3 separate regions of the Homo sapiens genome follow, and regions 1 and 2 are each reported to be linked to region 3. Evidence: microRNA targets listed by miRTarBase, many of them from high-throughput screens and not tested one by one. Region 3 holds a microRNA gene; each other region holds the end of a gene's coding sequence.

Evidence for each region. Region 3 holds the annotated microRNA hsa-miR-1206 (UGUUCAUGUAGAUGUUUAAGC, at 5,422-5,442, shown strand). A microRNA usually pairs through its seed, bases 2 to 8, with sites in the 3' UTR of a target mRNA and lowers its output. Matches are read on the target gene's strand: a 7mer-m8 pairs with bases 2 to 8, a 7mer-A1 pairs with bases 2 to 7 and ends in A, and an 8mer does both.
Region 1: the mRNA of ATXN1 is a reported target of hsa-miR-1206. Seed matches in the 3' UTR shown: 7mer-A1 at 8,913-8,919 and 7mer-m8 at 9,226-9,232.
Region 2: miRTarBase lists TRIM21 as a target of hsa-miR-1206. Seed matches in the 3' UTR shown: 7mer-m8 at 9,852-9,858.

Annotation. Positions count from the first base shown.
Region 1 is chr6:16,300,106-16,310,976 of GRCh38, reverse strand. ATXN1 (ataxin 1) reads left to right here. Exons shown (of 8, transcript NM_001128164.2): 8 at 4,118-10,871. The coding sequence ends at 4,648. Among named protein-coding and RNA genes, the nearest start is that of GMPR, 67 kb to the right of the region's middle. RefSeq lists a silencer at 849-1,057 and enhancers at 5,278-5,397, 7,306-7,885.
Region 2 is chr11:4,375,356-4,386,159 of GRCh38, forward strand. TRIM21 (tripartite motif containing 21) reads right to left here. Exons shown (of 7, transcript NM_003141.4): 6 at 10,802-10,804; 7 at 9,542-10,498. The coding sequence ends at 9,930. It also overlaps the pseudogene OR52B3P. Among named protein-coding and RNA genes, the nearest start is that of OR52B4, 12 kb to the left of the region's middle. RefSeq lists an enhancer at 10,310-10,804.
Region 3 is chr8:128,003,480-128,014,350 of GRCh38, forward strand. It overlaps MIR1206 (microRNA 1206), which reads left to right and starts at 5,419; the gene lies at 5,419-5,477. PVT1 (Pvt1 oncogene) reads left to right here. Exons shown (of 9, transcript NR_190187.1): 5 at 6,111-6,239; 6 at 6,839-6,965. It also overlaps the pseudogene RNU4-25P.

The DNA of each region.
Region 1 (10,871 bases), not on the chromosome of region 3:
TATGGATCCAGTAAAGTCTGTCATTCTAGAAATGTATCAGAACTAGATCAATCAGAGTTAACAAAGGAAACAAAGAAGATGAAGTAGAAAAGCAACAATCTGTGGAAATCTACTACTTTTAAAGTTTTTTTGGTACTTCAATTATGCATGTGTGTTTTTGTGTGTCTGAATGTGTATAAAATCCAATGGAGGCCTGACACGGTGGCTCACGCCTGTAATCCCAGCACTTTGGGAGACTGAGGCGGGTGGATCATGAGGTCAGGATATCGAGACCATCCTGGCCAACATGGTGAAGCCCCCACTCTACTAAAAATACAAAAAGTAGCTGGGCGTGGTGGTGGTGGTGCATACCTGTAGTCCCAGCTACTTGGGAGTCTGAGGCAGGAGACTCGCTTGAACCCGGGAGGCGGAGATTGCAGTGAGCCGAGATCGCGCCACTGCACTCCAGCCTGGGCGACAGAGCAAGACTCCCTCTCACAAAAAGAAAAAAAGAATCCAACAATATTTTAAATATTGTTACATATAGCCAATATTCATTCAGATTCACCATGTATCTACCATTTTCATTCCTCTTCATTCCTCCCTGTACAAACTTCAATCTAGATTTGTTTTTTCTCTACCTAAAGAATACCTTTTAGTATTTTCTATAATGCAGATCTGTTGATGGTGAATTCTTTTAATTACTGTTTGTCTGAACATGTCTCTATTTTGCCTTCATTCTGGAAGGATCTTTTTGCTCCATATAGAATTCGCCATTGACAATTCTTTTTCTTTAGCACTGTAAAGATATTCCATTGTCTCCATTGTCTACTGGCTTCCATTATTTTTGTTGAGATGTAAACTGTGAGTTCCATTGTTGCTTATTTGGAGATAATATGTATTTTGTTCTAGAGGCTTTTTTTTTTTAATGGAGTTTCTCTATTGTCGCCCAGTCTAGAGTGTGATGGAATGATCTTGGCTCACTGCAACGATCTTGGCTCACTGCAACGATCTTGGCTCACTGCAACCTCCGCCTCCCGGGTTCAAGTGATTCTCCTGCCTCAGCCCCCCGAGTAGCTGGGATTACAGGTTCCTGCCACCATGCCCAGCTAATTTTTGCATTTTTAGTAGAGATGGGGTTTCACCATGTTGGCCAGACTGGTCTCAAACTCCTGACCTCAGGTAATCCACCCACCTCGGCCTCCCAAAGTGCTGGGATTACAGGCAGGAGCCACCACACCCAGCCTGTTCTAGAGGCTTTTAACGATATTTTTTCCTGTTTAGTTTACAAGATGTCTTTGATTTATAGCAGTTTAATTCTCATCTGCCTCAGTGAGGATTTCTTTTTGTTTATTTTTCCTGTTTGGGGCTAGGCCTTCTTGAAACTGTCTTATTATCCTTCTTCAGTTTGGGAAAATTCTTAGCCATTACCTCCTCAAGTATTAACTTCTGCCCTATTATCTCCCTCTCTTCCTCCTCCTAGGATTCAAATTATGTGTCTGTTAGCCCCTCTCAATGTATCCTATGTGTCTCTTACCCTCTCCTCCATATTGACCATCTTTTTGTCTCTATGTTCACTCTGTGGAGTCTCTTCTAAAGCTCTAATTAGAGAATCCAGTTCCTGAATTCTTTCTTAATCCATGTCTATTCAACTGGAAAGCTCATTGCATTCTTGATTTCAGTGGTGTATATTTTAATTCTACAATTCTCATAGACCTTTTTTAATTAATTAATTATTATTATTATTATTATTTATTTTTTTTTTTTTTAGAGACAGAGTCTCACTCTGTTGTCCAGGCTGGAGTGCAGTCTTGTGATCATAGCTCACTGCAACCTCTAACTCCTGGGCTCAAGATCCTCCTGCCTCAGCCTCCTGAGTAGTTGGGACTACAGGCACGCATCACCACACTAGGCTATTTTTTTTTAAATTTCTGTAGAAACGGGGTCTCATTTTGTTGCCCAGACTGGTCTGAAACTCCTGGCCTCAAGTGATCCTCCCTGTCTCAGCCTCCCAAAGTACTGAGATTACAGGCATGAGCCACCATGCCTGGCTTCATGGATCTTTTAAAAACAGATTCTAGTTTCCTATCAAAATTCTCAAGCTGTCTTTAATCTTCTTAATTATTGTAAGCATAGTCTTTGTAAAGTCTATATGTATGACTCTATATGAGAAGCCCTGGTGCATCCTTTTTTAAGATCTGATATTTTGCTAGTGCTTATACAAGCTATCTGGTCTCCTCATGACCACCACCCCCCTTTTTTAAATTGAATGCTTTTATTTGCAAAATTGTGAAAGTAATTCAAGACCTTAATCCAGTTTTAGGGACTCAGATGAGTCAATCTGAGCTTCAGACCTTGAAAGGCCTGTTGGCTTGTGGTTCACTGTCTCCTCTAAGGGACAGTGCTTTGGGGTCACAACTCAAAAGAATGGGGCTCACCAGAGAACACCCTCCCTTGGTGTATCCTGAACTCCATTACCTGTTCCCTATGCTCTTAACACTATCAAAAGCCCACTTGGTTTCCCAACTGCTCCACTTTGGAATGTTCAAGTGCCTTCAGGAGAAAACAGGCCCCCAACACCAGCTTCACCTCTCTGGGCCATCATCTTTTCCTGATCCAACCCAGGAAGTGTGTGTGTGTGTGTGTGTGTGTGTGTGTGTGTGTGTGTGTGTGTGACGGAGTTTCACTCTGTCGCCCAGGCTGGAGTGAAGTGGCATGATCTCGGTTCACTGCAGCCTCCGCCTCCCGGGTTCAAGCGATTCTCTTGCCTCAGCCTCCTGAGTAGCTGGGATTATAGGCGCCTGCCACCACACCTGGCTAATTTTTGTATTTTTAGTAGGGACAGGGTTTCACCATGCTGGCCAGGCTGGTCTCAGAGTAAAGTGGCACGATCTTGGCTCACTGCAACCTTCGTCCCCCGGACTCAAACGATTCTCCTGCCTCAGCCTCCTGAGTAGCTGGGATTATAGGGGCCCACCACCACACCTGGCTAAGTTTTGTATTTTTAGTAGAGATGGGGTTTTGCCATGGTAGCCAGGCTGGTCTCAAACTCCTGACCTCAGGTGATCCACGCGCCTTGGCCTCCCAAAGTGCTGGGATTACAGGCATGAGCCACCGCGCCTGGCCTTTTTACTATCTTATTTGCTGTCCAGTACTATAAGAAAAAAAGTTTAAACATTTTGTCCAGAGTTTTTAAATTTATTTGTTTGCTTATATTTTTGTTCAGAGTTTTTAGTTGTCCTCAGAAGGAGGGTTGGTCCAAATTACCTAGTCTACTACATCTAGAAAGGACATTGGAAATTGACTTTTTTTTTTTTTTTTTGAGACGGAGTCTCACTCTGTGGCCCAGGCTGGATCGCCCAGTGGCACGATCTCGGCTCGCTGCAACATCTGCCTCCTGGGTTCAAGTGATTCTAGTGTTTCAGCCTCCCAAGTAGCTGGGATTACAGGTGCCCGCCACCACGCATGGCTAATTTTTTTTTTTTATTTTTAGTGGAGACGGGGTTTCCCCATGTTGGCCAGGCTGGTCTTGAACTCCTGACCTCAAATGATCCACCCACCTTGGTGTCCCAAAGTGCTGGGATTACAGGCATGAGCCACTGTGCCCAGCCACCAAGCATCCTTTTAGGGGCTGGGGACTCAGTGATAAACACACTGTGCCTGCTTCTTGGAACTCACAGTCTCACTCTGATCCATGTTTAGTCCTGTCCTGTATGATAATAGCAGTTGTCCATTGAGCTCATAAAATCTAAGACCGCGCTGGGCTTGTGAGCCACCTGCAGAGCCTAGCTTGGTGCTGAAAGCTAAGTGGGTGCTCTGTCATTACTGGGGTTCGATTGACTGGTTCTAACAGAGACCAGCTATAGAGCTAACACTTGATGGAATATTTTGAATATTGATGACCTTTTCACTGGCTTCTGCCTATGGCAAGTAGAGGTACAACCCAAAGAGAAGAGCCTCATTTATAGTGTGTGGCTGGGGGAGAGGGAGGTTTGCAAACTGAGTCATTTTCCCCCATTCAGCCTGTGTGTGTCTGTGTGAGTTCATACCTGTGTGTGTGCATAAAATCAAACAAGAATAAAATGTTTTCATTTGTTCCCTTCCTTCTTCCTCTCTCTGTCTCTCCCTGTTTCCACAGGTCAGCGTTGAAGTTTTGGTAGAGTATCCTTTTTTTGTGTTTGGACAGGGCTGGTCATCCTGCTGTCCGGAGAGAACCAGCCAGCTCTTTGATTTGCCGTGTTCCAAACTCTCAGTTGGGGATGTCTGCATCTCGCTTACCCTCAAGAACCTGAAGAACGGCTCTGTTAAAAAGGGCCAGCCCGTGGATCCCGCCAGCGTCCTGCTGAAGCACTCAAAGGCCGACGGCCTGGCGGGCAGCAGACACAGGTATGCCGAGCAGGAAAACGGAATCAACCAGGGGAGTGCCCAGATGCTCTCTGAGAATGGCGAACTGAAGTTTCCAGAGAAAATGGGATTGCCTGCAGCGCCCTTCCTCACCAAAATAGAACCCAGCAAGCCCGCGGCAACGAGGAAGAGGAGGTGGTCGGCGCCAGAGAGCCGCAAACTGGAGAAGTCAGAAGACGAACCACCTTTGACTCTTCCTAAGCCTTCTCTAATTCCTCAGGAGGTTAAGATTTGCATTGAAGGCCGGTCTAATGTAGGCAAGTAGAGGCAGCGTGGGGGAAAGGAAACGTGGCTCTCCCTTATCATTTGTATCCAGATTACTGTACTGTAGGCTAAAATAACACAGTATTTACATGTTATCTTCTTAATTTTAGGTTTCTGTTCTAACCTTGTCATTAGAGTTACAGCAGGTGTGTCGCAGGAGACTGGTGCATATGCTTTTTCCACGAGTGTCTGTCAGTGAGCGGGCGGGAGGAAGGGCACAGCAGGAGCGGTCAGGGCTCCAGGCATCCCCGGGGAAGAAAGGAACGGGGCTTCACAGTGCCTGCCTTCTCTAGCGGCACAGAAGCAGCCGGGGGCGCTGACTCCCGCTAGTGTCAGGAGAAAAGTCCCGTGGGAAGGGTCCTGCAGGGGTGCAGGGTTGCACGCATGTGGGGGTGCACAGGCGCTGTGGCGGCGAGTGAGGGTCTCTTTTTCTCTGCCTCCCTCTGCCTCACTCTCTTGCTATCGGCATGGGCCGGGGGGGTTCAGAGCAGTGTCCTCCTGGGGTTCCCACGTGCAAAATCAACATCAGGAACCCAGCTTCAGGGCATCGCGGAGACGCGTCAGATGGCAGATTTGGAAAGTTAACCATTTAAAAGAACATTTTTCTCTCCAACATATTTTACAATAAAAGCAACTTTTAATTGTATAGATATATATTTCCCCCTATGGGGCCTGACTGCACTGATATATATTTTTTTTAAAGAGCAACTGCCACATGCGGGATTTCATTTCTGCTTTTTACTAGTGCAGCGATGTCACCAGGGTGTTGTGGTGGACAGGGAAGCCCCTGCTGTCATGGCCCCACATGGGGTAAGGGGGGTTGGGGGTGGGGGAGAGGGAGAGAGCGAACACCCACGCTGGTTTCTGTGCAGTGTTAGGAAAACCAATCAGGTTATTGCATTGACTTCACTCCCAAGAGGTAGATGCAAACTGCCCTTCAGTGAGAGCAACAGAAGCTCTTCACGTTGAGTTTGCGAAATCTTTTTGTCTTTGAACTCTAGTACTGTTTATAGTTCATGACTATGGACAACTCGGGTGCCACTTTTTTTTTTTTTCAGATTCCAGTGTGACATGAGGAATTAGATTTTGAAGATGAGCATATATTACTATCTTTAAGCATTTAAAAATACTGTTCACACTTTATTACCAAGCATCTTGGTCTCTCATTCAACAAGTACTGTATCTCACTTTAAACTCTTTGGGGAAAAAACAAAAACAAAAAAAACTAAGTTGCTTTCTTTTTTTCAACACTGTAACTACATTTCAGCTCTGCAGAATTGCTGAAGAGCAAGATATTGAAAGTTTCAATGTGGTTTAAAGGGATGAATGTGAATTATGAACTAGTATGTGACAATAAATGACCACCAAGTACTACCTGACGGGAGGCACTTTTCACTTTGATGTCTGAGAATCAGTTCAAGGCATATGCAGAGTTGGCAGAGAAACTGAGAGAAAAGGGATGGAGAAGAGAATACTCATTTTTGTCCAGTGTTTTTCTTTTTAAGATGAACTTTTAAAGAACCTTGCGATTTGCACATATTGAGTTTATAACTTGTGTGATATTCCTGCAGTTTTTATCCAATAACATTGTGGGAAAGGTTTGGGGGACTGAACGAGCATAAATAAATGTAGCAAAATTTCTTTCTAACCTGCCTAAACTCTAGGCCATTTTATAAGGTTATGTTCCTTTGAAAATTCATTTTGGTCTTTTTACCACATCTGTCACAAAAAGCCAGGTCTTAGCGGGCTCTTAGAAACTCTGAGAATTTTCTTCAGATTCATTGAGAGAGTTTTCCATAAAGACATTTATATATGTGAGCAAGATTTTTTTTAAACAATTACTTTATTATTGTTGTTATTAATGTTATTTTCAGAATGGCTTTTTTTTTTCTATTCAAAATCAAATCGAGATTTAATGTTTGGTACAAACCCAGAAAGGGTATTTCATAGTTTTTAAACCTTTCATTCCCAGAGATCCGAAATATCATTTGTGGGTTTTGAATGCATCTTTAAAGTGCTTTAAAAAAAAGTTTTATAAGTAGGGAGAAATTTTTAAATATTCTTACTTGGATGGCTGCAACTAAACTGAACAAATACCTGACTTTTCTTTTACCCCATTGAAAATAGTACTTTCTTCGTTTCACAAATTAAAAAAAAAATCTGGTATCAACCCACATTTTGGCTGTCTAGTATTCATTTACATTTAGGGTTCACCAGGACTAATGATTTTTATAAACCGTTTTCTGGGGTGTACCAAAAACATTTGAATAGGTTTAGAATAGCTAGAATAGTTCCTTGACTTTCCTCGAATTTCATTACCCTCTCAGCATGCTTGCAGAGAGCTGGGTGGGCTCATTCTTGCAGTCATACTGCTTATTTAGTGCTGTATTTTTTAAACGTTTCTGTTCAGAGAACTTGCTTAATCTTCCATATATTCTGCTCAGGGCACTTGCAATTATTAGGTTTTGTTTTTCTTTTTGTTTTTTAGCCTTTGATGGTAAGAGGAATACGGGCTGCCACATAGACTTTGTTCTCATTAATATCACTATTTACAACTCATGTGGACTCAGAAAAACACACACCACCTTTTGGCTTACTTCGAGTATTGAATTGACTGGATCCACTAAACCAACACTAAGATGGGAAAACACACATGGTTTGGAGCAATAGGAACATCATCATAATTTTTGTGGTTCTATTTCAGGTATAGGAATTATAAAATAATTGGTTCTTTCTAAACACTTGTCCCATTTCATTCTCTTGCTTTTTTAGCATGTGCAATACTTTCTGTGCCAATAGAGTCTGACCAGTGTGCTATATAGTTAAAGCTCATTCCCTTTTGGCTTTTTCCTTGTTTGGTTGATCTTCCCCATTCTGGCCAGAGCAGGGCTGGAGGGAAGGAGCCAGGAGGGAGAGAGCCTCCCACCTTTCCCCTGCTGCGGATGCTGAGTGCTGGGGCGGGGAGCCTTCAGGAGCCCCGTGCGTCTGCCGCCACGTTGCAGAAAGAGCCAGCCAAGGAGACCCGGGGGAGGAACCGCAGTGTCCCCTGTCACCACACGGAATAGTGAATGTGGAGTGTGGAGAGGAAGGAGGCAGATTCATTTCTAAGACGCACTCTGGAGCCATGTAGCCTGGAGTCAACCCATTTTCCACGGTCTTTTCTGCAAGTGGGCAGGCCCCTCCTCGGGGTCTGTGTCCTTGAGACTTGGAGCCCTGCCTCTGAGCCTGGACGGGAAGTGTGGCCTGTTGTGTGTGTGCGTTCTGAGCGTGTTGGCCAGTGGCTGTGGAGGGGACCACCTGCCACCCACGGTCACCACTCCCTTGTGGCAGCTTTCTCTTCAAATAGGAAGAACGCACAGAGGGCAGGAGCCTCCTGTTTGCAGACGTTGGCGGGCCCCGAGGCTCCCAGAGCAGCCTCTGTCACCGCTTCTGTGTAGCAAACATTAACGATGACAGGGGTAGAAATTCTTCGGTGCCGTTCAGCTTACAAGGATCAGCCATGTGCCTCTGTACTATGTCCACTTTGCAATATTTACCGACAGCCGTCTTTTGTTCTTTCTTTCCTGTTTTCCATTTTTAAACTAGTAACAGCAGGCCTTTTGCGTTTACAATGGAACACAATCACCAAGAAATTAGTCAGGGCGAAAAGAAAAAAATAATACTATTAATAAGAAACCAACAAACAAGAACCTCTCTTTCTAGGGATTTCTAAATATATAAAATGACTGTTCCTTAGAATGTTTAACTTAAGAATTATTTCAGTTTGTCTGGGCCACACTGGGGCAGAGGGGGGAGGGAGGGATACAGAGATGGATGCCACTTACCTCAGATCTTTTAAAGTGGAAATCCAAATTGAATTTTCATTTGGACTTTCAGGATAATTTTCTATGTTGGTCAACTTTTCGTTTTCCCTAACTCACCCAGTTTAGTTTGGGATGATTTGATTTCTGTTGTTGTTGATCCCATTTCTAACTTGGAATTGTGAGCCTCTATGTTTTCTGTTAGGTGAGTGTGTTGGGTTTTTTCCCCCCACCAGGAAGTGGCAGCATCCCTCCTTCTCCCCTAAAGGGACTCTGCGGAACCTTTCACACCTCTTTCTCAGGGACGGGGCAGGTGTGTGTGTGGTACACTGACGTGTCCAGAAGCAGCACTTTGACTGCTCTGGAGTAGGGTTGTACAATTTCAAGGAATGTTTGGATTTCCTGCATCTTGTGGATTACTCCTTAGATACCGCATAGATTGCAATATAATGCTGCATGTTCAAGATGAACAGTAGCTCCTAGTAATCATAAAATCCACTCTTTGCACAGTTTGATCTTTACTGAAATATGTTGCCAAAATTTATTTTTGTTGTTGTAGCTCTGGATTTTGTTTTGTTTTGTTTTTTAAGGAAACGATTGACAATACCCTTTAACATCTGTGACTACTAAGGAAACCTATTTCTTTCATAGAGAGAAAAATCTCCAATGCTTTTGAAGACACTAATACCGTGCTATTTCAGATATGGGTGAGGAAGCAGAGCTCTCGGTACCGAAGGCCGGGCTTCTTGAGCTGTGTTGGTTGTCATGGCTACTGTTTCATGAACCACAAGCAGCTCAACAGACTGGTCTGTTGCCTTCTGAAACCCTTTGCACTTCAATTTGCACCAGGTGAAAACAGGGCCAGCAGACTCCATGGCCCAATTCGGTTTCTTCGGTGGTGATGTGAAAGGAGAGAATTACACTTTTTTTTTTTTTAAGTGGCGTGGAGGCCTTTGCTTCCACATTTGTTTTTAACCCAGAATTTCTGAAATAGAGAATTTAAGAACACATCAAGTAATAAATATACAGAGAATATACTTTTTTATAAAGCACATGCATCTGCTATTGTGTTGGGTTGGTTTCCTCTCTTTTCCACGGACAGTGTTGTGTTTCTGGCATAGGGAAACTCCAAACAACTTGCACACCTCTACTCCGGAGCTGAGATTTCTTTTACATAGATGACCTCGCTTCAAATACGTTACCTTACTGATGATAGGATCTTTTCTTGTAGCACTATACCTTGTGGGAATTTTTTTTTAAATGTACACCTGATTTGAGAAGCTGAAGAAAACAAAATTTTGAAGCACTCACTTTGAGGAGTACAGGTAATGTTTTAAAAAATTGCACAAAAGAAAAATGAATGTCGAAATGATTCATTCAGTGTTTGAAAGATATGGCTCTGTTGAAACAATGAGTTTCATACTTTGTTTGTAAAAAAAAAAAAGCAGAGAAGGGTTGAAAGTTACATGTTTTTTTGTATATAGAAATTTGTCATGTCTAAATGATCAGATTTGTATGGTTATGGCCTGGAAGAATTACTACGTAAAAGGCTCTTAAACTATACCTATGCTTATTGTTATTTTTGTTACATATAGCCCTCGTCTGAGGGAGGGGAACTCGGTATTCTGCGATTTGAGAATACTGTTCATTCCTATGCTGAAAGTACTTCTCTGAGCTCCCTTCTTAGTCTAAACTCTTAAGCCATTGCAACTTCTTTTTCTTCAGAGATGATGTTTGACATTTTCAGCACTTCCTGTTCCTATAAACCCAAAGAATATAATCTTGAACACGAAGTGTTTGTAACAAGGGATCCAGGCTACCAATCAAACAGGACTCATTATGGGGACAAAAAAAAAAATTATTTCACCTTCTTTCCCCCCACACCTCATTTAAATGGGGGGAGTAAAAACATGATTTCAATGTAAATGCCTCATTTTATTTTAGTTTTATTTTGATTTTTATTTAATATAAAGAGGCCAGAATAAATACGGAGCATCTTCTCAGAATAGTATTCCTGTCCAAAAATCAAGCCGGACAGTGGAAACTGGACAGCTGTGGGGATATTAAGCACCCCCACTTACAATTCTTAAATTCAGAATCTCGTCCCCTCCCTTCTCGTTGAAGGCAACTGTTCTGGTAGCTAACTTTCTCCTGTGTAATGGCGGGAGGGAACACCGGCTTCAGTTTTTCATGTCCCCATGACTTGCATACAAATGGTTCAACTGTATTAAAATTAAGTGCATTTGGCCAATAGGTAGTATCTATACAATAACAACAATCTCTAAGAATTTCCATAACTTTTCTTATCTGAAAGGACTCAAGTCTTCCACTGCAGATACATTGGAGGCTTCACCCACGTTTTCTTTCCCTTTAGTTTGTTTGCTGTCTGGATGGCCAATGAGCCTGTCTCCTTTTCTGTGGCCA
Region 2 (10,804 bases), not on the chromosome of region 3:
CATGTTACCACAGAAGATTTGTGGCCTCCTGGAAATACTATTGAAATGAGAGGCAAGAGGCTTGCTTCTAGACTTCCTTAACTCATTTCCTCTGTAACCTTGGGAAAATTGCCTTCTTTTCTGGGGCTCTTATAGTTAGTTACGTGACAAGATTATTCTAAAGAAGGAGTTGGGAAACATTTTTGGTAAAGGCCTAGAGTAAATACTTTAGGCTTCAGAAATGGTCTCCACAAGAGCTCTCACAGATGATATGTAAACAAATGGGAATGGTTGTGTTCCAATAAAACTTTATTTACAAAAGCAGGTAATGGGCAGGAATTGGCCCATAGGCTGAAGTTTGATGATCCCTGGAATTAAGTCCCAGCCCATATATTTTATGTCTCTCGCTCAAGGTTAGGAGGTTCAAGAGTGAAACTGGGGAAGCTCAGGGGTGTTGTCCTGTGAATTGTGTTTCTGTGACAGTCCCCTCTTCTGGCATAGGCTAGGGATTTTAAGACTGGAGGCAGGGGTAAGAGGGAGTCAAAATGAGATGACTTAGATAAGTCATAAATTCTCCGTGTGGGAGTGAGTTTGGTTAGTTAATGACTATGTGTGAATTTGTGAGGGTACATATATGCAGGAAATGTTAAAAGCATGCGTATGTGAAGTGTCAGAGTGAAGGGCTGTTTGTGTAAACTGTAAAAATGTCCGTATGTAAATCTTCATTAAAATTTGTGAGAGTGAATATGTGGGATGGTGAGTGTATGAATGAACATGTGTGAAATATGCACCTGAATGGAAGAGTGTGTGTGTGTGTGTGTGTGTGTGTATTTTCAGCTGGCAGAGCTGGAATTTGACCCAGGTAGGTCTGATTTGAAAGCTCTTATTTTTCCTATGTTCACTGTCTTACATGTTTTAGAAGTTGTGGCATAAATAGGAGAATTGGAGCAGAGTGGGGTGGAAGCCCAAGAAAGGCGGTTTAGGTAATCAATATAACAAAATGGAAGTTTTAAATACTGATGGGAGCTTTGCTAGCTACTAACAAGTTGTTTGACTTTGGGCAAATTATCTGTCAGTTTCTTTGTGAATAAACTAGTGATAATTTCAATTTCACAGATTTGATGTGAAGATTAGAAATAATAATTATATATGATATGCAGTAGGTATTTAATGGTTGCTATTATAAAGCTAGGAAGTATTAGTAACAGAAATTGAAGATTATGAATGATAAGAAATGAAAAGTGACATTAGATTGGGCAATAGTCATGTGACAGATCATGACTATTTAGAGAAAGAAACTTTTGTGGCATGTTGGGGCTATCAGTACCATGGCAGTGGGTGAAGATCAAGAGGGAGGTGAGAGGATTACTGAAGAGAGAGCACATCCTTCCTTTTGTGACACTGAGGTGAAGGGGAGACAGGACACCCGAACATATTTGCTCAGTAAGAACGAGGAACAAAGAGAGAGGGAGAGGTTAAAATTACTGGAGAGAGACCAACTAATGGGGAGAGGTACTCAGAAAAAAAGAAGGGTTGGGCGTCAGTGCACAGATGGAGGGCTTAGCCTCCAGCAGGAGGAAGAGGAAAAGGACAACTTGAGTACAAATAAATTTGTAGGTGGCAGAGTAAAGGCGGTGGAATTTAAGGGAATTTATAACTGCCGACTTTGTTTTTCTCCTTGAACCAGCAGTCAGGAAATCACCATCACCCGATGAATGGGATCGAGTGGCATAGGGCAGACATGAAGTGATTAAAACCTGGTCTGGAAAGGCAAATTCCAGCTCCATCATTTGCTAGCCCAGCGACCTTGGGTAGGGGTGCTACTTAAATTCTCAGAGCTCTGTGTGCTCCCCTATCAGCAAAACGGGGGAAATGACAACAGTTATCTCAGGCTGCGGTGACTGTAATAATGCACATAAAGCCTGCAGCACAGTACCCCTCCTAAATGATCCCTGTCTCATTCTCCAGTCTCCTCCGTTCCCCATCCATCTTACACAATACTGCCGGAGAGAAAGCTACCTAAAATGTAAATTTACCATGCCATTCTCTCACTACAGATCCTTCAGTGACTCTCACTACTTCAACATCAATCTAAAGCCCTTAGAGTAGGACTCAAATCTCTCAATGATTTGGCCCCTACTTCAGTCCCTTGTATTATTTTCTACAATTTTATTATCCCTCTCATGTCCTCTTTGCACTAACCCTGCATCATTATAATTTTCCTCCAAACCCTATGTCTTTTCAGATCTCTATGACTTCATTCAAGTTCTTCCCTCATCATGTTTCTTTACTTGGCGAACTCTTATTTATTCTTCAAGGCAGCACTCTAGCAAGTCTTTTCCGAATGCCTAGGGAGTTCTTCCTCTTTCCACAGCTCCCTGTGCTTAGCTTTTCTTCTACAGTGTGCATATTAGATAGGTAGCCATGTTGCTTGATTGTCTGACTGTCCCAAGTAGGTCTTCAAGAAACCATGCCTGGCACGTACTCAGTAAGGCGTATTAAATTGATAGGTAACTCAGTTGCCACTTTCCTTTTGAGATTCACATCACATTCTGGTGTTCAAAGTGGAAATTGAAGTGCTTGTTATTCGCAGCTTGTAAGCATTTACAACAACCTGAGACTGAGATCTATGGAATTCTAGAGCCAAAAATTTCTCTTTTACGAATAATGTAATCCATTCTGTCCCTAACTTTAGTTTTAAGGTGATAAAAGAGACATCCAGAACAGGGAAGTAATTTTATTGAGATCACATAGTTCATGAATAGAATGGCAAAGAATTTTAGACCACATCCCCTGACTTCTTCAACAGGACCCTTTTCACTGCTCCATCCAGTGAAAAATAATCTGTTCCCTCCTTCCCTACTCCAACCCCATTCAGCTTCTTGGGAAGAGAGAAGAGGTAACTGCCAAATCCTACATACCAATGCTCAGGTGACCTTCCCTGGGCATGACAACCCACAACTCCACTGGTAGCAGCCACTCACTCTTCATTCTGCTGAGCATTCCTGGCTTAGAAGACCAGCACACATGGATGTCTCTCCCCTTCTTTATTTCCTACCTTGTTGCTTTCCTTGGGAACAGCCTCATCATCTTCATCATCATCACTGAATGCAGCCTCCACGAACCCATGTACCTTTTCCTCTGCATGCTGGCTGTGGCTGACCTTATCCTGTCTACTACCACTGTGCCCAAGGCCCTAGCCATATTTTGGTTCTATGCTGGAGCAATATCCCTTGGTGGCTGTGTTACCCAAATCTTCTTTATCCATGCTACCTTCATCGAGGAATCAGGAATTCTGTTGGCGATGGCACTTGACCGCTATGTGGCCATCTGTGATCCACTGCACTATACCACAGTGCTCAGTCGTGCAAAAATCACAAAGATTGGCTTGGCTGTGGTCCTGAGAAGCTTCTGTGTGATCATGCCAGATGTGTTTCTGGTAAAGCGGCTGCCTTTCTGCCATAGCAATCTGCTGCCACATACCTACTGTGAGCACATGGCTGTTGCCAAGTTTGCTTGTGCTGATATTCATGTCAATGTTTGGTATGGCTTGTCTGTCCTTCTCTATACTGTAGTGCTAGATGCCTTGCTTATCTTAGTGTCCTATAGCTTCATCCTGTATACAGGCTTCCACCTCCCCTCCCCAAGGAGCTCGGCAAAAGGCTCTGGGCACATGTGGCTCCCACCTCAGAGTCATTTCCATGTTCTACTTGCCTGGTATTTTTACCATAATTACCCAGCGGTTTGGGCACCATGTTCCTCTCCATACACACATTCTGCTGGCTAATGTCTGCGTGTTGGCTCCTCCCATGCTGAACCCCATCATTTATGGGATCAACACCAGGCAGATTCAAGAGTGTGTGCTCAGTCTTTTGTCCTCACAGAGGAAATGATGCTAGATTTGACTAATCTGATAGTATGTTTATCACTATAGGGCTTTGCTTTTTTTTTTTTTTTTTTTTTTTTTTTTTTTTTTTTTTGCCTACTTTGCAGAGACCTACGAATTAAGATTCCACTGACTATGGATAAAGTGACTGATCATGACTTTGAAAATCAGATTGTCATGTGACCTTGAAAAGTATAGTGTTTAGGGAAGAACATAAGCTTTGGATCAGGATTAGGTTTGAATCCTGGCTTCCTTTATAACAGTGTGTTTGACCTTGGGTAAGTTACTTATTCTCTTAGAGACTCTTCCTGGCACATCCTTAGGGTGCCAGAAAAAGGACTATCAAAACAGAAATAACCAAATTAAACCATAAGAAAACTTTACTTACTAGGGCATTACAGTTAAAACACTTAGATAGACTCTATCTTCATGTAATTAAGATTACATTAAGATTACTCTATCTTAATGTAATGTAATGTAATCAAATGATATATTTGATATCATTTGAAATATATTATTTTAAATTAGATATGGGAGGATATCATAATCATTGCATTTCTTGATTGTCTTGATTGTACATTTATCATAGGCCTATGATAAAAATAAATAAAATAAAGTATGAACAGGACCTTGAATATACATGAGACAAAATAAGCAGTGGATACATTTTAAATTTTCTTTCTTTTCTGCTTTACTGACTTTATCTTTAAAATTGTAGTATAATATCTGTTTTTCCTAATTCAAAAGGAAGTTGTAGAATCAAAAGAGATTAGAAAATTCAACTAGTTTGTTTGAATTTTAAAGGGCAATATTAATGAGAATTAGAATTAGTGCTGATAGAGTCTTTCCTCATTTCTCAGGAGAACTTTTATGTGACATGCAAAGGTATACCTGGATTACTTGTTAGTGACTATTGGTGGGGGTAAAAGTTGAGATTCTATGAAATCTCTACTACTTGGTTTATTTTGGTGGAGACCAAGGGAAGTATATCATCTATATAATGTATATCTCCAAGTATAAAGGTAACCTGATATCCCAAGGTATTCAGATTTTGAGAACTGAGATTATTTAGGTTGATATCATTCTGACAGTCTCCTCTCATCAGTATATCAATGAAAGGGAGCAAACCATCATTTATACTGGTTAGCTCGAAGGCAGAAACATAGAGAAGCAGAAAAGCTGATTTTATAATCTACCCTTCTTTTTCTTCATATTTCTCCATGAACCTAGCAAATACAAGCCCACCATTCCCCAGTACATCTCATTTGCATAAGCATGAATTCTCTTCCATATTCCTGCTCCAGTTTATTACCCAAGGAACTGGTCGACTTTGTCATTTATCTTGATTTAGTTGTCATCTGAGGATTTAAGACCTGGGTCTTTTCTGTTCTTTTTATCTTTTCTTCATAGGATTCTTTTCTGTCCTATGTTAAAAGATAGACCATTACTCATCCTTAGAAGCAACTCTTTGATCAATAAAGTCTTTTCAAAGTCACTGACTTCTTTGTACAGTAACTAAATTTTTCATGAAATATTTAGTGGAAATGGTGCTGAGGGCAACCTGAGATTCTATTTTAGATAAGGAATCAGAGTTCCTGGAATGCTAGGGCTCTCTCACAGTCTACTGTGATTCAAGTTTAGAGCTTTATTGTTCCAACCTTAAAAACTTAAAGTATGCTGTCACCAGGTGATGCTGTTACCTCAGTCCTGGCTTTCATATCAATCAGGGTTCAACTGGAGAAGCAGAAAGAGTAGTAGATATATATTAAGAGATTTATTGCAAGGAATTCACTTGCACAACTGTGGGGGCTGGGAAAGCAAGTCGTATATCCATAGGGCAGGCAGATGGAAGGTAGGCTGGAACTCTCAGGCATGAGTTAAAGCTGTTATTCATAGGTGGAATATAATCTTCAGGGAAGCTTCAGTTCTGCTTTTAAGGCCTGATTGAATTAGGCCCACCCAGATTACATAGGATAATCTCCTTTACTTAAAGTCAAATAATTATGCACTTCAATCATATCTACAAAATACCTTCACAGCAACATCTAGGTTAGTTTGAATAACTAGGGGCTTATAGCTAGCCACCAAGGTGGCATATCAAAAGACCACCACACCTATTTAGATTGATATTCCTAACCCCATGTTCTCTTCTAGGAGTTGTATGGTTTCAGGTCTTAGATTTAAGTCTCAACTCATTTTGAGCAAAAATTCTTGAAGAACTTTTTAACTTTCTTGTGCACACCATCTCAGGCAAGGTGTCTCCAAAGTTTACTCCATACATTTTTACTAAGCATCTGCTAAATTCAGATGAATCTCCAACAAATAATTGAATACTATGGTAATTAATATAATCTATTTAAATATTAAAATATAAATCCCACAACATTAAGGTAGTTGCAAACATCTCTAAACTCCCTCACCCCTGCTTCTAGTTCCATATCATTATGTCCTCTTTGGAAAGAATAAGGGGATGCCCTTTCCTTCACCTTTAGGGATACAAGGAGAATGTTGATGAATATCATGTGGCAAGTATGGGGGATGTTGAGTGAAAACACATGGATGAGAAGAAGAAGATATAAGGGTCAAGTAACCAGTGAGATCTTCCATAGACTTTGGATTAAAATATAGTTGCAATCTGAGCTGTAAGACTTTAGTTCATCTCTGCTTGGGAAGTGTTAGTTTAGTTAGGAACTTAGACAGGAAGATACAAGATGGGGCTCCTGGGGAAAGGAAGTAAGAATAGACTGTTGGGCCAACAGGAAAACTTCCCAATGTAGGGGAGAAGACTGGCGTGTAGGGCCTTCCACAATCTACCACAAGCGCATATGGAGCTGACATCTCCCATGTCATTATCTCTTGGGTACCTAAGGTTGGGTGTGGTGGCTGTCAGCACAGCACAGACTCCTAAGCAGTGAGGAATTATAGAAATGACACTCACATTTTAGCAGAATTCAGGCCCCTCCCATAATCCTAATCTTGTGGCCTTTCTTTAGGTTTTGGACCCTGAGCAAGGAGGGGGTTAGTTTTAAGAAAGGACTATTATCATCCTTGCTTCCAAGTTAAACTAGAAACTAAATTCCTCCCATGTTTAGCTTGACCTATGCCCAGGAATGAATGAAGACAGCCATCCTGTGAGGCTAGAAGCAAGTCGGAGTCAGCCACATTAGATTTCTCTGTCATAATCTTTACAAAGGTGAGTTTTCTTCAATTTTTTAGATTCAGGGATATATGTGCAAGTTTGTTACCTGGGTATACTGCATGATACTGAGGTTTGGGTATGAATGATCCTGTCACCCTGGTACTGAGCATAGTACCCAGCAGTTAGTTTTTCAACTTTTGCTCTCCTCCCTTCCTCCCTCGTCTAGTAGACCCCACTTTGTTGCCATCTTTATGTCCATGAGTACCCTGTGTTTGGCTCCCACTTATAAGAGAGAACATGTGGTATTTGGTTTTCTCTTCCTGCATTAGTTTGCTAGGATAAAGGCGATTTCAAAAATTTATTTGCATTTTGTTTTAACATAGTTATGACCCACCTTCTGAAATTATACAATTTGGTGTAACTGTCTTCACTGAATATGTCATGGGCATCTCCCCCATGTTATTAATAATTTTATTTTGAAATGGCTGTGTAGTCTTCCATTGACTAGATGGACAGTAGTGCTAATTGTTGATCACTAATGCTATAACCAATTTTCACTGTTATTCATTGAAGAATATCTTTATGCATAGGGCTATTTCCCAATGTCAAGTTATTTCCTTAGGATAGATTCCCAGAGGTGGGATTATTAAATTAAATAATATGGAAATCTCTGAGGCCTTTATTACATATTGACAAAATGATTCCAGAAATGTTTGCATCCATTTACATCACAACCAGCAAGGATAAATGTGTCCATCTTGCCAGTATTGAGTATTATCATCTGACTAAATATTTGCTAATGTGATAATGAAAGAGTAGTGACCCACACTCCCCTGGGCAGGCACTAACTCCCTCTAGCTCCTTCCACACCTTAACCTCCCCACCTGCGGTCCCTCACCAGGCTTGGACAATTCCTGCAAGAGACTTAGGGAGACCAGCTCCACAGGCTTCTATGCTTTGACCTTTACCCCCATGGTGGGACCTTGACAGGATCTACTGGTAGCCCTCTGAGATCTAGGTCAAAGTTGAGGCCAAGAACAAGGTGGGTTGAGAGCCAGGGATGTGTCATGTGCGCATGCACGTGTCTGTGTGTGTGTTGGGGAGTAGTTCAAAGGAAGAGGGGTTAGGGTGGGTGGAATGAGGCAGAATCATCCAGGGCTGAGAAGTCTAAATCTGGAAGGAAAGGGATGGGAACAGGGAGAATGGCTTTTTCTGTCAGAGAGAGCCGAGGGGGAAGTGGCAACAATGAGAGATGCTCTGAGTTTGAAAGAAGGTAGGAGAAGAAAGTTGCCACGACCCACTTATGGGGACACTCTAGAGGGAGTCTATGTCTCATCCTTTACTTCGACACCTGAGACCACCCCCACGCTCCTGGATCTGTCTGCAGAAGCTGTCAGATGCTGGGCCCTTCCCTTCCCAGAGACGCATCTTTGACCCTGCTACAGCTCCTGCTCCTCTTCTGTCTGTCTGTCTTCCCATCCCAAAGCCCCAGCCCTGGGGCACAGGCCTGAGCTGCACATGTTAGAGAGGGCTTGTTAGTGGCTGTGTCCAGGAACTTAGACAGCTCCTTTGTTTGGCTTTCTTTCCATATCCTTTCAACCTCTTCTTTCCTCGTCCAAACCATTCAAGTAGGAGGCGTGGGGCCCGGGGCAGGAGTTTTAGGGGAGGTAGCCTGGTCATAGAGACAGGAAGAAGATGAAGCCATGCTTCACTTACTCTTTGCTGCTGTGTTCTCTTCTTACCTCCACACAAAGTCTCTCCTCACCTTGCCTGAAAGGATACCTCATCGTCTGCAGTGGAAGCTTCTGGAAGACAAGATGGTCCCTTTCTTCCTAATACTCATGGCCTCACCTGCCGAATGTGAGCACATGCTGACACAGACACACATTTCTTCAGGCTCCAAATCCCTTCCTCATGATTGGGGATGTGGTCACACCCACAGCACACACCCCCTTTTTCTTTATCCCTTAGCGGATGTAACATTTACTCTTCTGGAAAAGTCCGAAAACTTTGCCCAAGAAAGGTGCATTCCAGAGAGAAATAACATTAAAACTGGATATTCCAAGGGGCACAGGAATTGGCCAGTTGTCTAGAACACTGAAAGCATAGGGAAGCCCCAGAGAGCTCCAAGAACTTTGATGTTGTCACTCGTCACTTACTGAGAACATGGACAGAAGGTGCTTCAGGTCTGTGAGGGTCAGAGATGCAGAGGTCACAGAGCTACTCCAGCCCCAGGAGAACTTTGTATTTCAAAAGCAGGTGTTCCCTCATGGTAAGGAGGTAATATCCCCTCGGACAGCGATCAGAGCCCAAATGGCCTTCTATCACCACAGCGGCTATGATGGGGAAGGCAATGATGGGGAAGTACAGAAGACTTGACTTGACCTGGGTCTTCAGTCCAAGATCAAACATTTCAAATGGGACAGTCTAGGCATGAAAAGCACGTGCAGTGTTAAAGACACATCACTATTAATCATATTCAGAGTTCTCAAGTATTTCAGGATTAAGGAACAAGGACTGAATGGGATAGACGGAGGCACAGTTTTTTAAATTTTATTTTTTATTTTTAGGAAGCCCTTTTGCAAACCATACAAGATATAATAGAGATCTCACCAAAGACGACATCCTAGAGATGGAGAGGAGAAAAAAAAAACTTAAGTCCCATAAAGAAGGCAGAAACATGTTTTTGGTTGATCAAGATGAGTTTGGGCCAAATATAAGGAGGCTGCTTCACTGGAGGGAATCACAAAGCCATCTGGGGCAGGAATGTTGATGGTGAAGTGACTTCCCTGCTAAAGCTCGCTTGCTGGGATCCGGATGCCTCTGCAGAGACAAAGGTGGTTCAGAGTTCATGGGGAAAAGAGGCAGGGTTTGTGGCTGAGAAGCGGTGCCAATGGGGAGAGTGGCAGTGTCCAGAGAAAGCCATCAATAGTCAGTGGATCCTTGTGATCCAATATTCAGTGGACAGAGGGTTAGAGGGGCTGTGTTTTTTCCTCCATCATTGAAACCAGGACTGAAGAAGGGCCGCAGAGGTCCTGTAAAGGCACATTCAGAGAAGGAGTAGATGAGGGAGCCATGGTCAGTGATGTTGTAGAAGGAGACCATGCCAGCCTCATAGTCCAGGAAAATCCCAACTTGGCATGGAGGCACCTGAAGGTGGAGGGGAGTCTGGGGGTAGGTGCCAGCCTCATATTTTTGTTTGTTCCACAACCAAATTGTCCAGAAGCCACTCTTGGAACTAAGCAAAAAGTGCCCCTTCCTGCGCACAGAGTCTCTGCAGACACCCAGGTCCCAGGCCTCCTTTCCTGTCACATCTACCTCCCAGTAATGTTTTCCAGAGTGAAAGTGCTGGGCACCCAGGACCATAGGATAACTATCAAATCTCTCTTCATTTCCAGGTATGCTCTGCTGGGTGTCTCCAAGCCTCACTTGTCTCCGATCTTCTGAAAGTATCAGCCACGGATTGGCTGTGTCTGGATCCAGAGTGATGTGGACTGCAGAGAGAGGACCACAGTCAGGCCTTGCATGGGGGGAGTTCACTAAGTCTGTGCCTGTGGTGGGGGGATTTTGTGTAAACTCCAGGGTAAGCATGAGGGGTGAACCTCCCTGTGTGAGGAAATGACCATCAGCCAGTTCTGGCCTTGGTCCTGACCTCTGAAGAAACCATCTTCCTTACCTCCATCTCTGTTCCCCCTGCTCTGACCTGCCATCTCTCCTCCAAGTTGCCATCCAGGCTCCCTGACCCTGGGATCTACTCTGCACCCCATTATCCCCCGCAAAACTAGAACTTGCCTCACCTG
Region 3 (10,871 bases):
GGACTACAGGTATGTGTTCCCATGCCTGACTAGTTTTTGTATTTTTTGTAGAGACAGGATTTCATCATGTTGCCCAGGCTGGTCTTGAAGATATCTGCTTGCCTCTGCCTCCCAAAGTACTGGGATTACGGGTGTGCGCCATTGCGCCTGGCCTGTTGATTTCTTTTTTATAAAATGTCTTTGTTTTCATCCCTGTTATTATAATAATAATATAGGCATTCATATGCATATGTGTAAATTATAAGTGAGTTCTTATATAGATTTGGGGGACTATTCTCCAACATGACTGATGAGGGCATAGTCAAAAGACAAATTAATCAGGCCACCAGTCTGATTTATGAAGCGTCTCTGTCTTTGTCTATTTGGGCTGCTATAACAAAATATCATAGAATAAAGGGCTTAGTTTATTTTCTTACTGTGCTAGAGGCTGGGAAGTCCAAGGTCAAGGTGTGAACTGATTCAGTTTCTGGTGGGGGCTCTCCTCTTGGCTTGCAGATGGTTGCCTTCTTCTGTGTCCTTACATGGTTGTAGGAGCAGAGAGGGTTCTCTGGTGTTTCTTCTTATAAGGACACATATCCTTTCAGATTAGGACTTCACCCTTAGGACCTCGTTTAACCTTACCAACCTCCATAAGGTTTCTATCTCCAATAAAGTCACCTTAGGGGTTGGGACTTCAACATATGAATGCAGAATGGATGCTGGCACCTTTCAGTCCACAGCAGGCCGCAACTACTGTATTTCATTGTACAATAAGATCCCCTTGACTCTTGTGAATTATAATGAACATTAGTCTGTAAAGCAGGTCCTTGTAATCCAGCCAGTTTGTATACAGTAGGTAATCAAGAACTATGGATTTACTGGGTTTATTGGGTGGGGGAGAAGGGAGGGCTTTATTCAGGTGCCAGCACTTCTTCACCTTTCTCTACATTTGCTCATCCTGGAGGTGGGGTTGAGCTGGGTCTGCCTTGTCCCCTCACTTCCCTCTCTGCCGAGAGAGTCCTGAGCCCACCCATTACTGGTAGCAAAGCCCGGGGCACAATCTCCGTTTTCCTATTTGTAAAATGGAGCTAACAGTAGTACCCATCTCATCAGATGGCTGTAGAGATGAAATGAGATAATGTATTTGTGGCGTTAGGACAACAGTGGTCCTGCTACAGGGAGAAGCCTGGGCCAGGAGATAGACTAGTCTCCAGATACCACTGAAGTAGCCTTTCGAATACCAATTACCTGCCTCACTTTGCAGCTGTGCAGCCCTGAACAAGTTACTTTCCCTCTCTGATTTTCCAGTCTTTGTTACCTGTAAATGTAACAATGCCTTTCTCTATGTTGTTGCGAAGTCCACATAAAGTGACATGAAATTGATTATAAAATACAACACAGGCTGGGCACAGTGGCTCACGCCTGTAATCCCAGCACTTTGGGAGGTGGAGGAGGGCAGATCACTTGAGGTTGGGAGTTCAAGACCAACCTGACTAACATGGAGAAACCCCGTCTCTACTAAAAATACAAAATTAGCCAGGCATGGTGGCACATGACTGTAATCCCAGCTACTCGGGAGGCTGAGGCAGGAGAATCGCTTGAACCTGGGAGGTGGAGGTTGCAGTGAGCGGAGATCACACCATTGCACTCCAGCCTGGGCAACAAGAACAAAACTCCATCTCAAAAAAAAAAAAAGTTACAACACAAAGGTTGGCAACTATCACTAATAAGTTTGACTGGGAAACCTCACTACTACATTTGTATTGTCTTAGACCAAGCTTGTGAGATTTTTTTGTTATTTGTTTTTGAAGCTCATCAGCTATCGTTAGTGTTAGTGTATTTTATGTGTGGCCCAAGACAATTCTTCTTCTTCCAATGTGGCCCAGGGAAGCCAAAAGATTGGACACCCCTGTCTTAGACTTTTAAGGAGCTGTGACTGAAGGATGGAGACTGGGCCAGGTGGGGCTTGGTGCAAGTTTAAGCTCTTAGGTCATTTCTAAATAGCAAACCTCTCAAATAGCATCCAACAGATATGCCCTAGTCTTGTCGTCTTTCCCCTGCTATCTTTTGTACATGTACCTTCTGCTGACTGCAGTGTGTCCTGGAGCCCTGACTTAGTTAAACCTCAGAACATCCCTCTGCATCCGGATGCATCCAGTACTCTCGGTTTGTCTGGCTCCTGCTGTACTCCCTGCATCTGCCCAGCTGCTGACACAGCCACATATGGCTTCCTTTGCCCCAGCTTTCAGCATTCTGGTGGCTTGTAGTGCTGAGTGCTAGCAAAGAAAGTGGGTACTCTCACACACTGCTGCTGAAAGGTGGAGGGTGATGAACAGGACCAACAGCTCTAAAAGACGTTTCAAGGCCAGGTGTGGTGGCTCACACCCGCAATGCCAGCACTTTGGGAGGCCAAGGCAGGCAGATTACTTGAGGTCAGGAGTTCGAGGCCAAGCAGCCAACAAGGTGAAACCCCATCTCTACCAAAAATACAAAAATTAGCCAGATGTGGTAGTGCGCGCCTGTAGTCCCAGCTACTCAGGGGGCTGAATAAGGAGAATCACTTGAACCTGGGAGGCAGAGGTTGCAGTGAGCTGAGATTGCGCCACTGCACTCCAGCCTCAGTGACAGAGTGAGACCTTGTCTCAAATAATAATAATAATAATAATAATAATAATAATAATAATAATAATAAAAAGATAAGGGAAATTTGGGCAGGACTTCTCCAAGTTTAGAGTATATGCACCCTTTGGCCCAGCAATCCCACTTCTCGGAGTCTGTACCCTAGAAATAGTGAGGGAAGTTTCAAAAGATATTTATTCAACAGCATTAGTAATGTATCAGAACCTTGAAGACAGCCTAGCTGGTCAACAGTACAATGCTCAGTTGCCACTATAAAGAATGAGATGCTGTGTCCTTCTCAGTGCCTCAGATCAGGAGGCACCTGGTGTTGGCTTGTCACATTACTAATGATGTTTACTTCCATCACTTGATTAAGGTGATGTCTGCCAGATTTCTCTACTGTAAAGTTTCTATTTTTTTTTCTGTGTAATGAATAAGTATCTTGTCAGGAGATGCTTTGGACCTATGTAAGTATCTTGTTTCTCATCACACTTTCACCAAACTAATTTTAGCATTCGTGGATAATTCTTGTCTGAAACAGTTATTACTACAGTGTGTGCCAAACAGTGATTTTCTACTTCCATCATTACTCCTACATTTGTCAATTAAAATGTTACTATAAGGAAGATATTTTCTTTTATATTGAAAAAATGCAATTTTTTAAAAATCAGTCTGGACTCTTGGATTCTCATTATATTGGTTATAACCCATGACTATAATACATTTTGTGCTCAGATTTTTCTAGATTTTACATTGGGATGCCCTTCAAGTTGGGTTCTATGTATTTTTGCCATTTTACTGTTGTTTTTTGAGCACTGCCTTACCTTTTGACCCCACAAGATATTCTAGGCTCAGTGTACACTTTGCCTGGTCCAGCCCTGGAATCAGCCATTGCTGCTGTGCTATCCTTGACAGAACTATAACCTGAATTTAACAAGGAGGAAATATCAGGCAAACACAAATGGAGTGACATTCTAGTTAACAACTGATCAGCACTCTTTAAAAATGAAAGACAAAGAATGACTGAGGAATGAGTTCAGATTAAAAGAGACGAAGGGACACGCTCCAACTGTAACTGCAACGCATGACTGCGGGCTGCGTTCTGCATTGGAAAAAAGTGTTACTGATGAAATTTGAATATCGTCTCTAGATTGAGCAACTAAGCAATAATATTGTATTAAATTGCTAGATTGGGCAATAGTATTGTACTAAAGTTAATTTCCTGACACAGTTAAATAATTGTACTGTGTATATAAGATGTCAAAATTGAGAAGTTGCAAGGCTAAATGGAATTTCTCAGTTTTTTAAACTCTTACTTTGTACATCTGAAATTATTTTAAAATAAAAACTAAAAAAAAAAAACCTAAATACAAACCATGAGATAGATTTATATGTACTAATATGGGATGGTGTCCACAATCAATTGGAAAAGATAAGTTGTAGTACCATTTGTATAGAATTGGCCCATTTTTGTAGGAGCAAGACAGAACAATATAGTGCACATACATATTTATCTACACATGGGAGAAATTCTGTGAAGGGTATGTACTTCCTGTTAACAGACATTTCTGGGAAATGTGTTTGGAAGGTATGAGACACCTTTTACTTTTTGATGTCTCCTGATAATGGGAAAACAGTAAGAATGTGGGTTGTATGCATGAGTGTGATTCTACACGTGTAGGTTTAGGTTTGATGTACTCCCATCCAGCTTATTCTCTTTTGCATTTTCCAGCACAGGCAGTGCTGTGCAATGTCTTGCCCAGTGGACACCCACCTAATTTTCACTCCACAAACCACTGTCCTACATCTGATCCTTAACAAAGTATGTTAGTTGTAGACACAAAGGTGGCCTACATTTCATACTTGTTGACAGTAATGCTAGTTGACTCATCTTACCTTTGTCTGAGGAGGCTGGAAATTGTTTGTCCTCAGAAACTTTAGGGAGAAATTTATTACTAAGATTGTATCATTTTGGTCTCCCCAGAGAAATGAAAAATTAGAAATTGGCCATGTGACAATCGTTGCATTTACCTCTTTAAGGAGCAGTGATTCTTTAAGTGGTGCTTGATTTATCTAAACCCGATTAATTAGTGAACGGTCATCTGTTTCTCCCAGGAATTTTTAATGATCATTAGGCTTTTGTAGTTACTGTGAAATTTTGTTTACGTGGATTTATTTTTGTGCAGGATTGTATACAGGGCAGATGCTCCTTAATTTAAGAAGGGAGATGTGAGAACAAAAGTGTCTTCTCTTGAGTGAGGGCCTGTTATGTGCCCTGACTTGTTACAAATATCGACTAATGTAACCTTCTCTACCATGTACCTTTCTTCCAATTTATCAATGAGGAAACTGATGCAAAAATGTATGTTCCCACAGGCTCTGGTGTGTTCACTGAGTTAGCTCCAGAAAGAACTGTCCCCTTCTCATGCCTGTTCCCTACTTCTTTTGCAGCTAATTCTCCGAAATGGTTTCTGTCTTCAGCTTTCTGGGCTGCCCCATCACCTGTGTTGCTTCTAAATGTTAGTTTCATTGCTGCCTTCTGGGTTCCTCTGCTTCTCTCTGACATGATGTCTCTACGGATGCATCTCTCAGTAATGATTATAATGGTGGTGATGATAATAAAAAGAGAATACACAAGTGTTTTTATCAATCCCTGACCATGCTGGGCACAATGCTAAGCATGTGCAGGCATGATGTCTTTATTCTGCCCACTCAGCTGATGAGATTGAAGGGGCTCCCTGCAGGTTGGGGCCTGAAAAACACAGCCAGGTCCATCTAGGAACTAGAAGCTATGGTCAGGCTTACATGCTTTTTTCATATCAGTGTTCATGTAGATGTTTAAGCTCTTGCAGTAGGTTTTTGCAAGCTAGTGAACGCTGCCAAATTATGCTCGCCACACAATTGCAGCCACCTATTCCCAGGCAGTATAAATATATGGCTGAACTAACATTAATACCTATCACTGTTTTATCAAGTGACATAATCAAGATAATTATGAAGTATCCAAATATTAATTTTCATAGATTAAAAGCAGATAAAGTATTAGAAATCTGCTTATATCATTAGCAGAAACATTTTTGGGGGCCACAGGGTAAGGAAAAGAGGGGAAAATATTGTCCTTCAACAAAAGTAATCATATTCTAGTAAGTATAATAAAAGAAATGACAAGCTTTTCAGAATTTCCACGACTAAAAATTGTTTTAGCTGCAGCTAAAAAAGCATCACATAACAAAATATCTCTTGTTTAAAATATTTGCTACAAAAAAGTCCTATTCTATATGTCCTGCATAAGAACAAGTATCTTTATATAAGAAATGTGTTTAATAGCCCTCTTTCATTCTTTTTCTGAAGCCCTCCCTGTTAAATTGCACCCAAAGGGGAAACATTAATTGAACTGTAAAGCTTTTTTTTTTTCTGTCTAAAGACATTAAAGACATATAGGTGGTATTAAATGAACCTTTAACTAGAGCTCTGTGAGTTTTCAAAATAGATTTTATTTTTCTTTACCATAGGCCAACAGAGATTTTGAGAAACACATTGAAGGATCTGTTAACACTTGATATACCCAATAAAAGCAGTGGTTGTGCCAGTGCTGATCTGTCTTGATGTGAATGTGAACAATGGGAACCTGAGCTGAGCAGGTAAATAATCATGTAGTACAGTCACCGTCTTCAGTGTTTGAGATGACTAGCAGGGTAAACCACGCTGTGTCTAAGATGCAGTGTTAATTCTGTTTGAAGTAAAAATATGCAAGTGTGGTACTGGATATTTTGGCACGCAATCTTGCGAAATTTCTCATTGATGAGATTCTGACATAGGAACTACATTTGAGTAAGAATCATAGCTCAATACAGCATGATTTCAGGAAAGTCGACTAAGATAAAAGTGTTTCTGAGGCTGAACAGCAAGAATCTTTTGCTAAGAGTTAGAATAGATTGACAAGAACCTAAAATCAGAAGTTGCAATTCTGCTGAGATACTGCTTTTCAGTTCTCCGGTGGAAGCTTCATTGGACATATTGTACATCAAGCCTCTATGTGACTGATTCCTGCCTCTTTATGTCTTGTTTTAGATTCTCCATGGCAGTAGCTTTAGGCAACCCAGTTTTACTGAATGCAGCAATGGTTTCAGTGACCATTAGAGTCCAATTTTAGGATGATACTTCTCCAAATTGTTAAAACTCCCTGGTGCTTTTCTCTTATAAACTGCAAAATGTCTTCATATTTCATCCCGCTTTTCAGTTAATGCTAGGGTGACAGAAACTGGACCTCTCCCAAGACATGTGACAGAGTAATACAGCAGCCAACTTCTTCGCCAAATTAAAGTTTTACAAGATTTAACCTGTCATCAAGACCTGGGATTTTGGTGGTGAGTCATCTTCAAAAGCCAAGTTCGGTCCCTGGTTTGCCTTCTTTTCCGCACAAGAACAAGGGTTTTGATGGCTCTGGTCTCCAGGACCATCTGTGGCTTTCTATTAGCAATAATCGCACCTCGGTGAAACCTCATTGGCTACGATACTGCCACTGCGCAAAGCTCATGGCTTTCTTTAATAGCAAATGGCCTCTGACTTTTAAGAAGCCATGTGGCTACCCCTCAGCAGACTTAGGAGAGGTCTTGGCTATTATTTGTTGTTTTATAAGGTGTCATCATTGAGCATCTACTCTGGATGAGGCTCTGTGCTGGGCTTGAGGGGTACAGGGAAGTTTCACATGTCCCGTCTTGTTGAATCACACACACTTGATCTCACTACAACAGCAGAAAACAAGTTAAAGTTCCCCAGGGGTTGACACATTTGCCTGCCGTGTTTATTGCTGCTGTGATTTCTGCAGCATGGTCCAAAGAAGGCAATCAGTCAACAGTGAATGGGTTGAGATTTTGTGATTTTGGTTTAGGAGTCTTAATCTCTAGAATAAAATCTAATGAAAGGGTGGGGCTATGTTTTTCTCTTGCCTTGACTTCTTTGACTCTATTTGTAAATTCCAAATTTACCCAGGCCTCTGGCTCATTCTGTCTTAAGGTGCGGGGACCTCTAAAATGTAGATGGCAACAATCTTTAGACTATATGTGTCTTGATGGTAGGGCAATCAAATTGATTTCCTCAGCATATACGAGTCATGTTTTGTAAGCATGGTGGGTACTTAGTCAATGTCTCAATCAGATTTGCTTCTGTTTAGCAAGATAATCTTTTGTGGGGGAGTGTTATGGACTGAACTGTTTTCCTTCTTCCAAACGTATATGATGAAACCTACCCCCATGTACTCAGTATTAAGAAGTGGACCTTTGGGAGATAATTCAGGTTAAATGAGATTATGAGGGTGGGGCTCTCGTGATGAAATTAGTGCCCTCAAAATAAGAGACCTCAGAGAGCTTACTGTCTCTCTTCTCTCTCTGCTACGTGAGGACACAATGAGAAGGGAGCCATCCACAATGCAAGGAGAGGGCCCTCATCAGAACAGACCATACTAGCACCTTGATCTTGCACTTGTAGTCTTCAGAACTGTAAGAAAATGAATTTTCTATTATTTAAGCCACCCAGTCTGGTGCAGTCTATTATTGCCTTCCAAATGGAGAAATACAAGGAAACTAGGGCCGTCTTAGCTTCACAGAGAGAAGATGTGGAGAGGAGTTAGGAGGTAGAGACTGGACCTTGATGGTGGTGATATTCAATTAGTGAAAGGCTGAGAAGAGGTCAAATATACTTCTTGTGGCCCCAAAGATCAGAACCAAAATGGAAAGGTAGAAACAGTAGGCAAACAGAAAGCAACTTAATAAAAGGAAAAGGAACCTGAGAGAATGCTCTGTCTCTGACAGTGGTTGGGATCTCATCACTGGAGATATCCACACAGGGACTGTATTACTACTGAGAGGGGGTGGGGCTGAAAGGATCCAAGCATTGCACTGTGATGCGACCCCATAAGGTCACTTAGTCTTTGGGACTTGTGAGCTCACAGTGAATCATTACAAACAGAAACGATTCCCTCTTATTTGTGGAGCACATTAAAATTTCCAAAGCATTTTTGTGAGTACATTAGCTCCCATGATTTATATCAAAACATTAGAGTTGACATTCAATACACATTTGCTGAATGAGGGGGATGCATGAAGGAGCTATTGTGGTACCTTGGTTGGCAGAAGAGGAATACATGGGCAGAGTCATTTCTAGACTTGCTAGGAAAGGCCAAGCCAGGCTTGGACCTGGGTCTCTACTGTACTCTTTACTCTACTCAGTCTTTTCCAAGGTGGAAATAATATTTTCTCTGAGGCTGATGTTTTTCTGTTTGTTTTGCATTTTGGTAAATTCATCAACATCAATATCCCCTTTAATGCTCACAAATGCCCTTAGAACCAGCTTTTATTGTTCTCATTTTGCAAATGAGAAAATGGAGGCTTCAAGAGTTGAGTGAGTTTAGCAAGGTTTTCAACTCTTCTTGGGCAGAGCATTAGGGTTGCAGACAGTTGGGCACCCTCTTCAAATGAATGTGAGCCAACGTTGGCCCTGTTGGGTGTGCAAGGAGTTCTTGCAGAGTTGATGGAGACCCTGTTTCGAGTCACATGAATAATTAATCTAGGGAAACAGTAGTCAAACAGTCAACTCATTCTTTCTTGCACTCTTGCTGATCCTCAGCAATTTCTCGGCTGCTCCTCCTGCCAGAGTCCTGTTTTGTACCTTGTAAACAAGTCACTCTAGGAGTTCCTAGTCCTGGCTGTATACCATAGTCACCTAGGGGCTTGCAAAATCTACTAATATCCACCCCACTCCCACCGTACTCCAGAGATTAAGATTTAATTGATCTAGAGAGGGATCTGGGCTTTGGTGTTTTAAAAAATCTCTTTAGATGGTTGAGAATCACCAAATTTTTGTTGGTGTGGGGCAGGTTTGCACATTCAGGTTCATGGGTTATTGGAATGAGGCATGAAGGGGCCTGCTATGTTCCCAGGGCCTGCTAGCTCTGTGCCGATTGCTTTTGGTTTTGTAGAAATGATTTCATTCCTTCTTCCCTGAAGCCATCCTGATTTGAGGTCATAGTCTATGGGGGTGCCATGTGGATTTATACTGCAACTCTTGTTTTTACTAGCTCTGTGACCTCAGAAAGGCCACCCCCCCTTCCCTGTGCCTCTGTTTCCATCTCCTCTGTAACATGGGGATAATAATACTAGTTTCCTTATAAGTCTGTTGTGAGCATTAACTCTTGGGATTATGCCTGTTGAATAGTTAGGGTTCCACAAATAAGTCTTGCTTAATGGTGTTGTTATCATTGTAATAGCTGCATGTGTGTGAGTGTATAAATGTATGTAAGATATTTTTCCTGTTTTTTTTTCCCCCTGGCAGAGTTAGCCACTTCTTCCTATGTGTAAGCATATCATCACTTTCTATTTCTATTATGGAATTGTAATGTGTTTTTGTGTCCCTAACCTGATATATTCATTCCACAAATGTTTATTGAACACTTGCTGAATGCTGAGGAATGGACAAGAGAGACACAATCTCTGCCTCTTGAGCCATTTGAACTTTGAAGAGGACAGATGATGACAAGAGGAAGTGGAAATAGGCTAGGATGCTACGGAGACTAGAACAAATGGTCCTTATTCGTACCTTGCTGTGGGGGAGACTCTCCTGACAGAGTTAGTTGTGTCACCTGCATTCTTTCTTTCCCTTCCACATATAGTGTCCTGGGACTTACTGTGATTACTTATCTCTCTATCCCTCAACAGTAAGTCCTAATCATTGGGGCTAGGAAATGTGCCTTGTCAAATGAATTAATGAATGAATCACGCTGGACCAAAATGAACAAAAAGTTATTTTTTTGACTCAATTTAGCTTAAACATCACATCCTGAGATGCTGTGTTAAATCCTGGAGTCACAAAAGACCTTTACAGAAATCTTTACAGATTTCTGGGAACTATAGACACGTATATGAGGATAGGTTTGGACCATTGTAGCTGCTGTAATAGCTGTTGTTCTGGTGAGCAGTGGGGACCCAAGTGTTAGTAGGCCCTGCAATAAACATGTATGGGCCTGAGATAAATGGGTCAGTGTCTCTCACGAAGCTCTGTTTCGTCAAGGTGAGGGAATGTGTCTTTTTTGCATTTATTCCCTCCCAGGGTTTAGGTCACTGCCTGACACATGGCAGGTGCACAGTGGATACACAGAGAGTGGCCAGACAGACGACATAGCTTTTCTCTGTGGATTTATCCTCATCTCTACAAGGGGGGTTAGCCAGTATTTTGAGGGTCTCCCTCAATGCTCACATTCTAGAATCCTGTGATGGGTG